Linked DNA regions of Homo sapiens. The protein of the gene in region 3 interacts with the protein of the main gene of each other region in a pairwise test. Each region holds a gene or a part of one and is shown on either strand. Other genes may lie near its edges.

Region 1 (3,651 bases), on a different chromosome or scaffold from region 3:
CACAGGCCCACACACTCACTGTTTTTTTTAATCCATGTTCTAGATCCTGGATTTTATTTGATAGAAAGTATACATCTCTGGCCCGTGTTCAGTAAAATGTCTACATGCCTGCTTGTCATCCTTGCTTGTCAATCACAGTTTCAGGTAAGGAATGAGGTGGTAGGCTTATGCCTCCCAACTGCTGGTAAAACATTTTCCCAAGGAATTTATGGATTCAGGAGGAGCTGACGGAAGAACTGAACAGGGATGTGTGCCCCACACTGTGCCTTGCAGCAGGGAGAAGCTGAGAGTCATGGCGCCTCTTGCCTCCTCCGTGCTTCCTTCTCAGGGGCCTGAATGGAGCAGGTGATGAGTTAGCAAAGGAGCCGCCGGCCTGGGCGACTGTGATGTGCAGTGGGGACAGGGCACAGGGAGGCATCTCGAGTTGGCGGCACCCTCGGTGGCAGGAACGGTGCCCCTCATCCAGCCCAGAGAACCTGGGCCCAGGCGGCACCGGTGTGGCTCCAAGAGGCAATAAACAGAGATGGGAACTGCCTACTCCCACCTGCCTCCCACCTCCCTGAAGGACCTGCAGGGGCCCAATGCCAGGGGCAGAAAATGCCTCCCTCTCACCACACCAGGCCCCTCCAACTCTCCACCCCACTCCCACAGGCAGGAATGGCCACTCTCCTGGCTAGGCAAGGCCACTGCTGCATCCCTTAGGTCCTAACAGCAGAACCCATTCCACCTTCCTCATGACCTTCTCGTCCTCAACCTTCCAGCCTGACCCCTCAGGCCAGACCAGCCATTTTCTTTAAATTCCTATCACATCCTCTGTAGCAATGCTGGTAAAACTGAGCCAGGCTCACACTGGAAGCCTGGAGATCATGGAGAGACAGCTAGTGGAGAAGAAAGGAGAGGAGGAGGACTTGGACCCTGCCCACACTGGGAGGAACCCGTACCACACAGAGCTGAGCTATCGGCCGGCTCTCCAGGCCCCACTCTGCTTCTCTGGGTGGAAGCCCCAGAACCATGAGGAGGAAGGATGCTTGGCAGAACAGGGTGGGGATCATGGGGTCCCTGCAATGCCAGATCCCTAATCTTTTCAAAAAATAACAGACACAGCTACCGATGACCTATGCAGTATGCCTTTACCTCCTTTAATCCTTACGGGACTGTGGGAAGGCTAGACTATTAACGATCACTTTACGCAGAAGAGGAAACAGAGAATTAAAAGAGCACCAGAAAGGCCAGTGTCTCCCCTAGGCCTGGGACCCTACCAGGGTCCTCTCAAGGGGTCGCACCTACAAGGAACCCCTCTCTCCTGCCTCCTCAGTTTCTCCCCTCTACCTCTGTGGGATCATCTGATGAGAACAGAAACTTGCTCTAGGATCTGCCTCTATAAACCCAGCCTTGACGTCAAGCTATCTCTCACTTCATTCCCCTCCTCCTCTTCATGGCAAAACTATACAAAGAATCATGCCCACAGTGTGTTCTCACCTCCCCTCCTCTTCTCCTGATGCAAACTGTTCTTGCCAAGGCCAGTGGTCACCCGAGCAATGCTACAGGCACCCAGACGCCCAAGGCTTATGGACAGGAACAAAGAGAGGTGGTTAACTTTTCCCAGCTCCCTCTGCCAGAAAGGCAGGGCTTGGATGTCCTGAGCAACCAGGGAAGTGGACAGCCAGAAAAAAATTTGAACCTAAATCAGGGATTTAAACTCCTTAAGGTAAGGGAAACACACACACACACACACACACACACACCCACACACGATCAGGGATTTAAATTCCTTAAGGGTAAGGGACACACACACACACACACACACACACAATAGAAAGCAAAAACCAAAGGGGAAAAATGATTAATTTAGCTACATCAAAGTTTAAATATTCTGTAGGACAAAACTTCTAAATAAAATTTAAAAGCAAGCAAAAGCCTAGGAGAAAATAGTTGGACCCAATACAAGAGACAAAGGATAAGTGTGCAAAAAGAATGAAGAACTCCTACAGAGAAAACCATGGAGAAACTGACACAGGATGGGAACAAGAGCTCAGCTGGAGAAACACAAAGGCAGCCTAGACAGCCACCTGAGAAGAGGTTAGGGAAATAAAAATGAAAGCCGATGGAAAGATACATTATGTTTGAGGAATGGAAGAATTTCAATGAAAATGACAATTTTACCCAACGCAATTTACAGATTCAATGCAATCACTACCAAAATACCAATGTCATTCTTCACAGAAATAGAAAAAACAATTCTAAAATTTATATGTAACTACAATAGACCCCAAATAGCCAAAGCAATCCTGAGCAAAAAGAATAAAGCTTGAAGCATCATAGTGACTTCAAAATATACTACAAAGCTGTAGTAACCAAATCAGCATGGTACTGGCAGACACATAAGCCAATGGACAGAAGAGAGAACCTAGATATAAATCCACACACTTATAGCCAACTCATTTTTGACAAATGCACAAGGAACATACTCTGGGGAAAGGACAGTCTCCTCAATAGATGGACTGGAAAAACAGGATATCCATATACAGAAGAATGAAACTAGACCCCTATTTCTCACTATATTAAAAAATCACATCAAAACAGATTAAAGGCTTATATGATTTAAAACCATGAAACTACTAGTAGAAAATATTGGGGAAATTTTGCAGGACATTGGTCTGGGCAGACTTTTTGTGTAAGACCTCAAAAACACAGGCAACCAAAGCAAAAATAGACAAATGGGATTACATCAAGCTAAAAAGTTTCTGCACAGCAAAGGAAACAACAAAGTGAAAAAATAACCCACAGAATGGAAGAAAATATCTGAAACCACTCATCTCACAAGGGATTAATAACCAGAATATATAGTACCAGGAATTCAAACAACTCAATATAAAAAAAATCCAATTAAAATATGGCCAAAAGATCTGAATAGATATTTCTCAAAAGAAGACATAAATGGCTCACATATATGCAAAAAGTACTCAACATCACTAATCATGAGAGAAATGCAAGTCAAAGCCACAATGAGATATTATCCCACCCCATTTTAAATGGCTTTTATAAAAAAGACAGGGAATAATGGACACTGGTAAGGATGTGGAGAAAGTGTTCCTCGTACACTGTTAGTGGGAATGTAAACTAGTTCAGCCACTATGGAGAACAGTATGGAAGTTCCTTTAAAAACTAAAAGCAAGCCAGATGCAGTGGCTCAAGCCTGTAATCCCAGCACTTTGGGAGGCCAAGGTGGGAGAATAACTTGAGGCCAGGAGCTTGAGACCAGCCTGGCCAACATGCCAAAACCCCATCTCTACTAAAATACAAAAAATTAGCTGGGTGTGGTGACACACGCCTGTAGTTCCAGCTACTTGGGAGGCTGAGGCATGAGAGTCACTTGAACCCAGGAGGTGGAGGTTGTGGTGAGCTGAGATTGTGCCACTGCACTCTAGCCTGGGCAACAGAGCGAGATTCCATCTCTGAAAAAAAAAAACAAACTAAAAACAGAACTACCATATGATCCGGCAATCCCACTAATGGGTACATATCCAAAAGAAAGGAAACCAGGATATTGAAGAGATATCTGTACCCCATGTTTCTTGCAGCACTATTCACAATAGCTAAGATATGGATCAACCTAAGTTTCCATACCAGATGAAAGGATAAAGAAGATGC
Region 2 (3,651 bases), on a different chromosome or scaffold from region 3:
CTGTCTGCGGGTCCAGGCAGAGTTGCAGAGAGAGAGTCAGGGTATAGGGTCCTGGAAGCCCTGGGCTGTGGGTCCTGGGCTACTCCAGTATAGCCTCCTGGATCACCCAAGTCCCCCCCGGGGGACCCGAGGGGCAGGATGGAAGGAAGACAAATCCCACAGGAACCCCAGTGCCCTGACCTGGGGGAGCCCAACCGCCTGCCCGGAAGCCCACCCCTCTGGATAGAGCTGAGGTTGTTTACTCACCAGGCCTGGTGCCTGCTCTGTCACCATGACAACGGAGAGGAGGAGGGGGACAGAGAGAACAGCAGGGTTCACTGCACAGCCCCTGAGACGCAGCCTGTGGCTGCCCCTTCCCCCTCACCCTCAGGGACACTCACGTCTGTCTCTGGGCTTTGCCTTCTCATCGTGGACGCCGGCAAAAATCCGCCAGAGTTGCTCGGTCAGAGTGTCGTGCCAAAACCAAGGCTCCTTGTCCCAGAACAGCTGGGTCTCCGGCTGATTGTCCTCCCCCAAAGGCCGCCGGAGCCAGTCGGAGGACCTGGTGGCCATGATGTCCTCAAAGCTCGACTCCTGCAGGGTCTTGTCCTTCACCTGCTGGGGCGTCCCAGGGCTGGCTGGTTCAGCAGGTGAGACCTGGCCCGGCAGGAACAAGGCAGTGAGAGCTTTGAGGATGAGCCTTCACCCAAGCCTGTCCCCTCCCCTCCTTGAAGACCCAGAAACTCACCTCCTCAGACTGGAAACCCTGGAGTTGGCTGCAGCTCTCCACAATCTGTAAGACGTTTCCTATCTAGAAGGAGGTTGGCAGCAAAACAGTTAAATGTTGTTGCAGTTAAGGGTTTGCAATCCTACAGCATGATTATCCCCACCTGTAGAAGAAGGTATATCAATCTACTTGTTTTTTTGAGACAGAGTCTCACTCTGTCACCCAAGCTGGAGTGCAGTGGTGCAATCTCGGCTCACTGCAACCTCCGCCTCCCAGGTTCAAGTGGTTCTCCTGCCTCAGCCTCCTGAGTAGCTGGGATTACAGGTGCACACCACCACACCCAGCTAATTTTTGTATTTTTAGTAAAGATGGGGTTTCACCATGTTGGCCAGGCTGGTCTCCAACTCCTGACCTCAGGTGATCTGCCCACCTCAGCCTCCCAAAGTGCTGGGATTATAGGCATAAGCCACCACCCCCAGCCTTCATCTACTTTTTTGCAGATAAGATCTCACTCTGACACCCAGGCTGGAGTGCAGTGGTGCGATTACAGCTCACTGCACCCTCAACCTCCCAGGCTCAAGTGATCCTCCCATCTCAGCCTCCTGAGTAGCTGGGGTTACAGGTATGCACCACCACGCTCAGCTAATTTAAATACACTTTTTGTAGAAATGGGAGTCTCATTATGTTGGCCAGGCTGGTCTTGAATTCCTGGCCTCAAACTATCCTCCCACGTGTGCCTCCCAAAGTGCTGGGATAACAGGTTTAAGCCACCGCATCCGGCCTATCGCACCTGGCATATATCTTTTTTTTTTTTTTTTTTTTTTTTTTTTTTTTTTTTTTTGAGACAGTCTCACGCTGTGGCCCAGGCAGGAGTGCAGTGATGTGATCTCGGCTCACTGCAACCTCCGCCTCCTGGGTTCAAGCAATTCTCCTGCCTCAGCCTCCCAAGTAGCTGGATTACAGGCGTGTGCCACTACACAGACTGATTTTTGTATTTTTGGTGGAGACAGGGTTTCACCATGTTGGCCGGGCTGGTCTTGAACTCTTGACCTAAGATGATTCTCCTGCCTTGGCCTCCCAAAGTGCTGGGATTACAGGTGTGAGCCACCACACCTGGCCCCAGCTACTCTTTTTGGGATGTTTTAAAAAGAAAACCTGACCACCACCACACTTTGCTTCAAATGACTTCAAGCAGGCCGGGTGCGGTGGCTCACGCCTGTAATCCCAGCACTCTGGGAGGCCGAGGCGGGCGGATCATGAGGTCAGGAGATTGAGACCATCCTGGCTAACATGGTGAAACTCCATCTCTACTAAAAATACAAAAAAAAAAAAAAAAATTAGCCAGGCATGGTGGCAGGTGCCTGTAGTCCCAGCTACTCGGGAGGCTGAGGCAGGAGAATGGCTTGAACCCAGGAGGCGGAGCTTGCAGTGAGCCCAGATGCGAGATGATGCCACCGCACTCCAGCCTGGGTGACAGAGCGAGACTTGTCTCAAAAAAAAAAAAAAAAAAAAAGGCTTCAAGCAGCAAAACAGCATACCTAGGTCTCCCTAGGTGAGGAAGACGTTTTAATTTGCTTAAACTTTGGAAAGATACTAAGAAACTGAGGGTTACCTGCTGGGGAGAATTGATAGAAACAAGTCAGTGGTAATTTTTTTTTCTCTTTTGAGACAGTCTTGCTCTGTCGCCCAGGCTGGAGTGCAATGGCACCACCTCTGCTCACTGTAACCTCTGCCTCCTGGGTTAAAGCAATTCTCCTGCCTCAGGCTCCCAAGTAGCTGGGATTACAGGCACCCGCCACCATGCCCAGCTAATTTTGTATTTTTAGTAGAAATGGGGTTTCTCCATGTTGGCCAGGCTGGTCTCGAACTCCTGACGTCAGGTGATCTGCCCACCTCAGCCTCCCAAAGTGCTGGGATTACAGGCGTGAGCCACCTCACCCAGTCTGGTGTTTTATTTAAAACGAACAAACAACAACAAAAATCAAGCCATCTGACCACTGTCAATCCCGAAGTTAAATGTAGTTTCTCAGTAAACAGAATAAAATCGAGATCAATACCATCCAGTACAAGTAGAATTGGAATAATACATAAATATAGTCATGCATATGGAATGTCTAGTAGCCATGTTCAAAGTATAAAGAAATTGGCCAGGTGCGATGGCTCACACCGGTAATCCCAGCACTTTGAGAGGCTGAGGCGGGCGGATCACCTGAGGTCAGAAGTTCGAGACCAGCCTGGCCAACATGGCAAAACCCTGTCTCTACTAAAAACATAAAAGTTAGCCAGGCATGGTGACACACACCTGTAATCCCAGCTACTTGGGAGGCTGAGGCAGGAGAATCACTTGAACCCAGGAGGTGGAGGTTGCAGTGAGCTGAGATCCTCCCACTGCACTCCAGCCTGGGAGACGGAGCATGATCCGTCAAAACAACAAAAAAAGAAAGCAAGGCGAGTGATCCTATCTCTTAAGTTTTTTTCTACAAAAAGGCTACCTGTCTGTTTCCTTAGCAGGACGGCGGAGGGAGGGGCCGGGAGGGGAGACCCTCCATCGGAGCCCCGCGGGGGGGGGGGGACTCCAGGCTGATGCCTCCTGGGGCAGCCAGTGATGGATTTCCCAGCTGAGCCCGCCCAGCAGCAGCAAATCCCAGGGGAGCCCTCTCCAATTCACCCCGCCTCGTTAATGCGCAATTTACCGGCACTTTAATGCGCTCAGCATGAAAAGTGTGGCTCCCTTGTGCCTGCTAGCAGCCCTCCCGGGGGAGAGTGGCAGGCGGGCTGTCGGAGGAGGGGGCTGTGCTGATGGCGATTTTGAAAGCACAGCGAGGCGGCTGGGAAAGCCCGGAACTGGAAGCAGCGGGTGGGGGAAGCGGACTGCCCAGGACCACAGGCCAGGCTGGGCTGCCAGGGATCCTGGGGCCCCCTGCAGTGGGGGCTGGGCAGGGACC
Region 3 (3,651 bases):
AGGCAGAAAGAAAGAATCACAAAATGGAACTACTGATGATAGCAACTCCAAAACCAAGACTGATTAGACTAAATCCCATGTGGCAAAAATTTTATTTAGTAAGTTTCCTTCTCCCTCTCTCCCTTTAGATATATGTGCATACACACACACGCACCTTTATTTTAGTAATTTTTTTTTTCTGAAAAAGAAAGTTTTCTGCACCTGATTGCTTCCATGAATAACACAAAGCACAAACAATATGACTTTCTTTGGTTATCATGCAATTTTTTCTCTGCTTACCAGAAATTGGCACAAATTTAAGATATACTATATTCTACTCCCTGAAGCACAGTCGCTGGCATCTCCACTGGCATTTAAAAATTTGAAGACATTTAAAAGAAAATCCACAAGCTTATAGTTGCTGTCTAAATCAACTTTAACATTTCATATATTCACAATTTCATAAGTGAATCAAATTACACATAAGAAATTATAGAACTAAGCCAACTAAATGACTTTTATAATAGGTACTGGGGAAAAATATTATTAAACCTTTTCCTCCAATTTCTGCCTTTCTTCCAGCAAGACAAACCATTTTCATGAAGTTTCTGTCTACATCACTAGTGATAATCTGAAGCAGCCATTAATCAATCTATTAGTGCATTCAGCAACATTTATCAAAGTGCCTCCCCAGAACTGTTTTGGATGCTGTTGTGGGCGCATGCAAAAATGAACTAAATATAGATTTTTGTCATCCAAGAATTTTAAGTCAATTTGTAATTATTGGTTCCTGGTTCCATAACTTTTTTTTTTTTTTTTTTTGGTGCTGGCTCAGATGTATACCTTCATCTATTCTAAGGTTAAGGCAATCCTTATAATTTTCTTCCTTTTTCTTGTTTGTTTGTTTTTTGTGTGTGTGTTTAAAATCTTGCTTATATTTGACTTTATTTTATTCTCACATCTTCTGAGTACATTAAAGTTAAAGGTAGATCATAAATCGAAAACATTCTTAAAGGTCTCTCTACTCAAATTATTTGGTGTTATTGTATCTCAGAAAGTATAATGAATTGCCTGTAGCAAATAAATAAAATCAGAACCTTTATACTCAATGGTTCGGTTTGGTACATATCCATGAAAATAATAAATGTTAAAAAGGATGCTAGCCGTTGATTCCTGGCATGCTATTCTACATTTGGCTACATTACAACGTTAAAAGGATTTAGTGCATATATCAAATTGTGGATCTGCTTGTTTTAAAATTTCATCTGTAATTCCACATGCAACCCCCACCCCCATACACACTCACAAGATCTGAATATGGTAACAAGGAAATCCTAGTAACTGTAGCGTTGGAAAAATGGTTCATATGGAAATAAGCCATTTGGCTAGTAAAGCTGGTGATTTTGTTCTCTAGGTGGCACTATTACTTCAATTTTTGGTGAGTTGCTTAAATTACTTGGAACTGCCCGTTTATTTTCTTTGAATTCCCATTTTATAAATTTTAATTTTATACAAGCTAGTTGTAATTAAACGACAGGTTGCCTTCTAGGTTTTATTTCAGTAAGTCAATTTGAAGTTCAGTGATTTTTTATCATATAATTTTATGTTTCCTTACTATACTGTCTTAGTTTTAAGAAATCCTCCCTTGCCTGACCTCCTCTCTCCAAAAATGCAGAGGCATGTCAAAAACACAGAGGGTCGTCATAAAGTTTCCGTCAGACCAAAGGAACCAAGATGAAAGCATGTTTAAGAGCTACTAGGTTCTGGGAGATTTCAAAATCAGGACATTACTACCATGACAACCAATGAAAAGTTCTTTCAAGTGAACCTTTGGGGAAAACTATATAACGTTCCTTACTCTCTAGGCTCTCTGGAAATAAACTTTTACTTTATTATGGCTGTCACTAAAGCTTGTAAATTTACTTTGCTTCCTTCCAATCGTTCTCCTGTCCCACACTCAGCCCCCTAACTCACTTAATGCAACCCATCCTCAAACATCAATCTATAAATGAGACATCAGGGCAATGAGCCACTTCTTAGCATCTAGTATATTTGATAAGATTTGTCTCATCAAGAGGATAAGTGCCCTAGAGCTTCTACTTGAACTTAAATACTTAATTTAAATGAAAGCTTCCACACTTATCTGACCAGATACTCAAATTTTTCTACAGAAAAGAGAATACCTTCCTGTTCCACTTAAAGAACACACACATTTACCACTCCCCCTCCTCTCCCCTGCAAAAGGTTTTCAATGTCAGTACATTAGTGAGCTCCATTTTGCATCTGCCATCAATAATGATTCCATATAGTCAATAATTGGGTTCATGACCTTTCTAAATCTTTACAGTGTAAATATTCTGGAAATCCAGTGAGGCACTTAAGTATAAAATTATTTAGGATTAAATAATTCTATGCCTTAAGTAGAAGTTTAAGAGGACGTTTAGGACACACATGACTAAGCCTACAAATACCAAAGCCACTCTATGTTTCCTAGGTTTAAATACCACATGCAAATAACATACGGATTTCATTTGCCAGCATCATTTATTGCCTAACATTACTCCATACTAAACAGAGTAAATGGATGCAGAGTGTAACCAGTAAGTTTGCTCATTCACTTTTGAAGCTCATCTGTGCATGTTATTCATCCTAATAAAGAAAATTTATCACAACACAACTTGATGCGATTCTTGTTCAAATGATTTCCTCTTCCATTGAACAACAGCCAGCACTTAAAACCTAGAATTCCACAGAATTCTCTCCTCGATTCCTCTTTAAAATGCAATTCACAGTTTGAGATCACAGAGCCTGCCAGTGGCTGAATGGCTGCACTAGATGGCTGAGAGTCCTTCAATTAAGCAACAATTTTGCAATTAGTGGAAACTGAGTGCTCTATAACAATTGTTTGAAAACAAGTTGAGACAAGTTAGCAATTACCCTATAAAAGGGACATATTCACTTTTGTTGGATAGGCGAGACCCCTCACACAAATTGAACTCTTCCACACAGGGAGATGCAAGTTGAAAATTAATGTTTTAATCACTAAAATCAAATCCATATTATGGGCACCTGAAATGGGAGTGCCTTTCTTCTCAAAAGATATTCAGAGTTTAGCTATCATCCACTCTCTATGCTGTCTGTTTTTATTCAGGAAGTCTGAAATTGTTCTTCTGTACTCCGGGATTAATTTCCTACATCTCAAAATGTTAATAAACTACTTGAACATGACCTTTCCATTCTGTAAATTTCCTTAAGAGTAAGTCTACGATTGAGACCCAAAGCTGCTGGCTGTGTTATATTTCACAGTTCACAGTTCTCTCTCTCTCTCTCTCCCCCTCTACACACACGCGCACGTGCACGCACACACACACACACACACACAGAGAGAGAGAGAGAGAGAGAGAGAGAGAGAGCACCCCAGGTTTTAGAAGATGAATGTAAAAAGAATGTAAACAAGTTCTCTGCTATACTATCAGGTGGGCGTGCCCAGCTCACTGTGCGTGCTGAACTACAAACCAGTGCTATTCATATAAGAAATGATATCAATCATCTACATTTTGACTATTGAAAAGCTGGGACTCTTAAAGATTCCAGGAAAAAGGGAATAGCTTACATTTTCATGGCGCCCCTTTTAAACAGGAAACCCACGGACTTTGAGCCAGGATTTTAGAA

The links.
Region 1: the proteins of BDNF (region 3) and SLC41A3 interact in binary tests that used the Homo sapiens proteins (3 or more experiments, as listed by UniProt).
Region 2: the proteins of BDNF (region 3) and TLE6 interact in binary tests that used the Homo sapiens proteins (3 or more experiments, as listed by UniProt).

The regions. Positions count from the first base shown.
Region 1 is NC_000003.12:126,077,495-126,081,145, forward strand, and holds part of SLC41A3 (solute carrier family 41 member 3), read right to left. Parts: intron 1-3,651. UniProt on the Homo sapiens protein: Na(+)/Mg(2+) ion exchanger that acts as a predominant Mg(2+) efflux system at the mitochondrial inner membrane.
Region 2 is NC_000019.10:2,983,968-2,987,618, reverse strand, and holds part of TLE6 (transducin-like enhancer protein 6), read right to left. Parts: exon of another isoform or gene 3,400-3,651; intron 791-3,399; coding exon 728-790; intron 637-727; coding exon 381-636; intron 264-380; coding exon 247-263; intron 1-246. UniProt on the Homo sapiens protein: Component of the subcortical maternal complex (SCMC), a multiprotein complex that plays a key role in early embryonic development.
Region 3 is NC_000011.10:27,693,805-27,697,455, forward strand, and holds part of BDNF (neurotrophic factor BDNF precursor form isoform a preproprotein), read right to left. Parts: intron 1-3,651. UniProt on the Homo sapiens protein: Important signaling molecule that activates signaling cascades downstream of NTRK2. During development, promotes the survival and differentiation of selected neuronal populations of the peripheral and central nervous systems.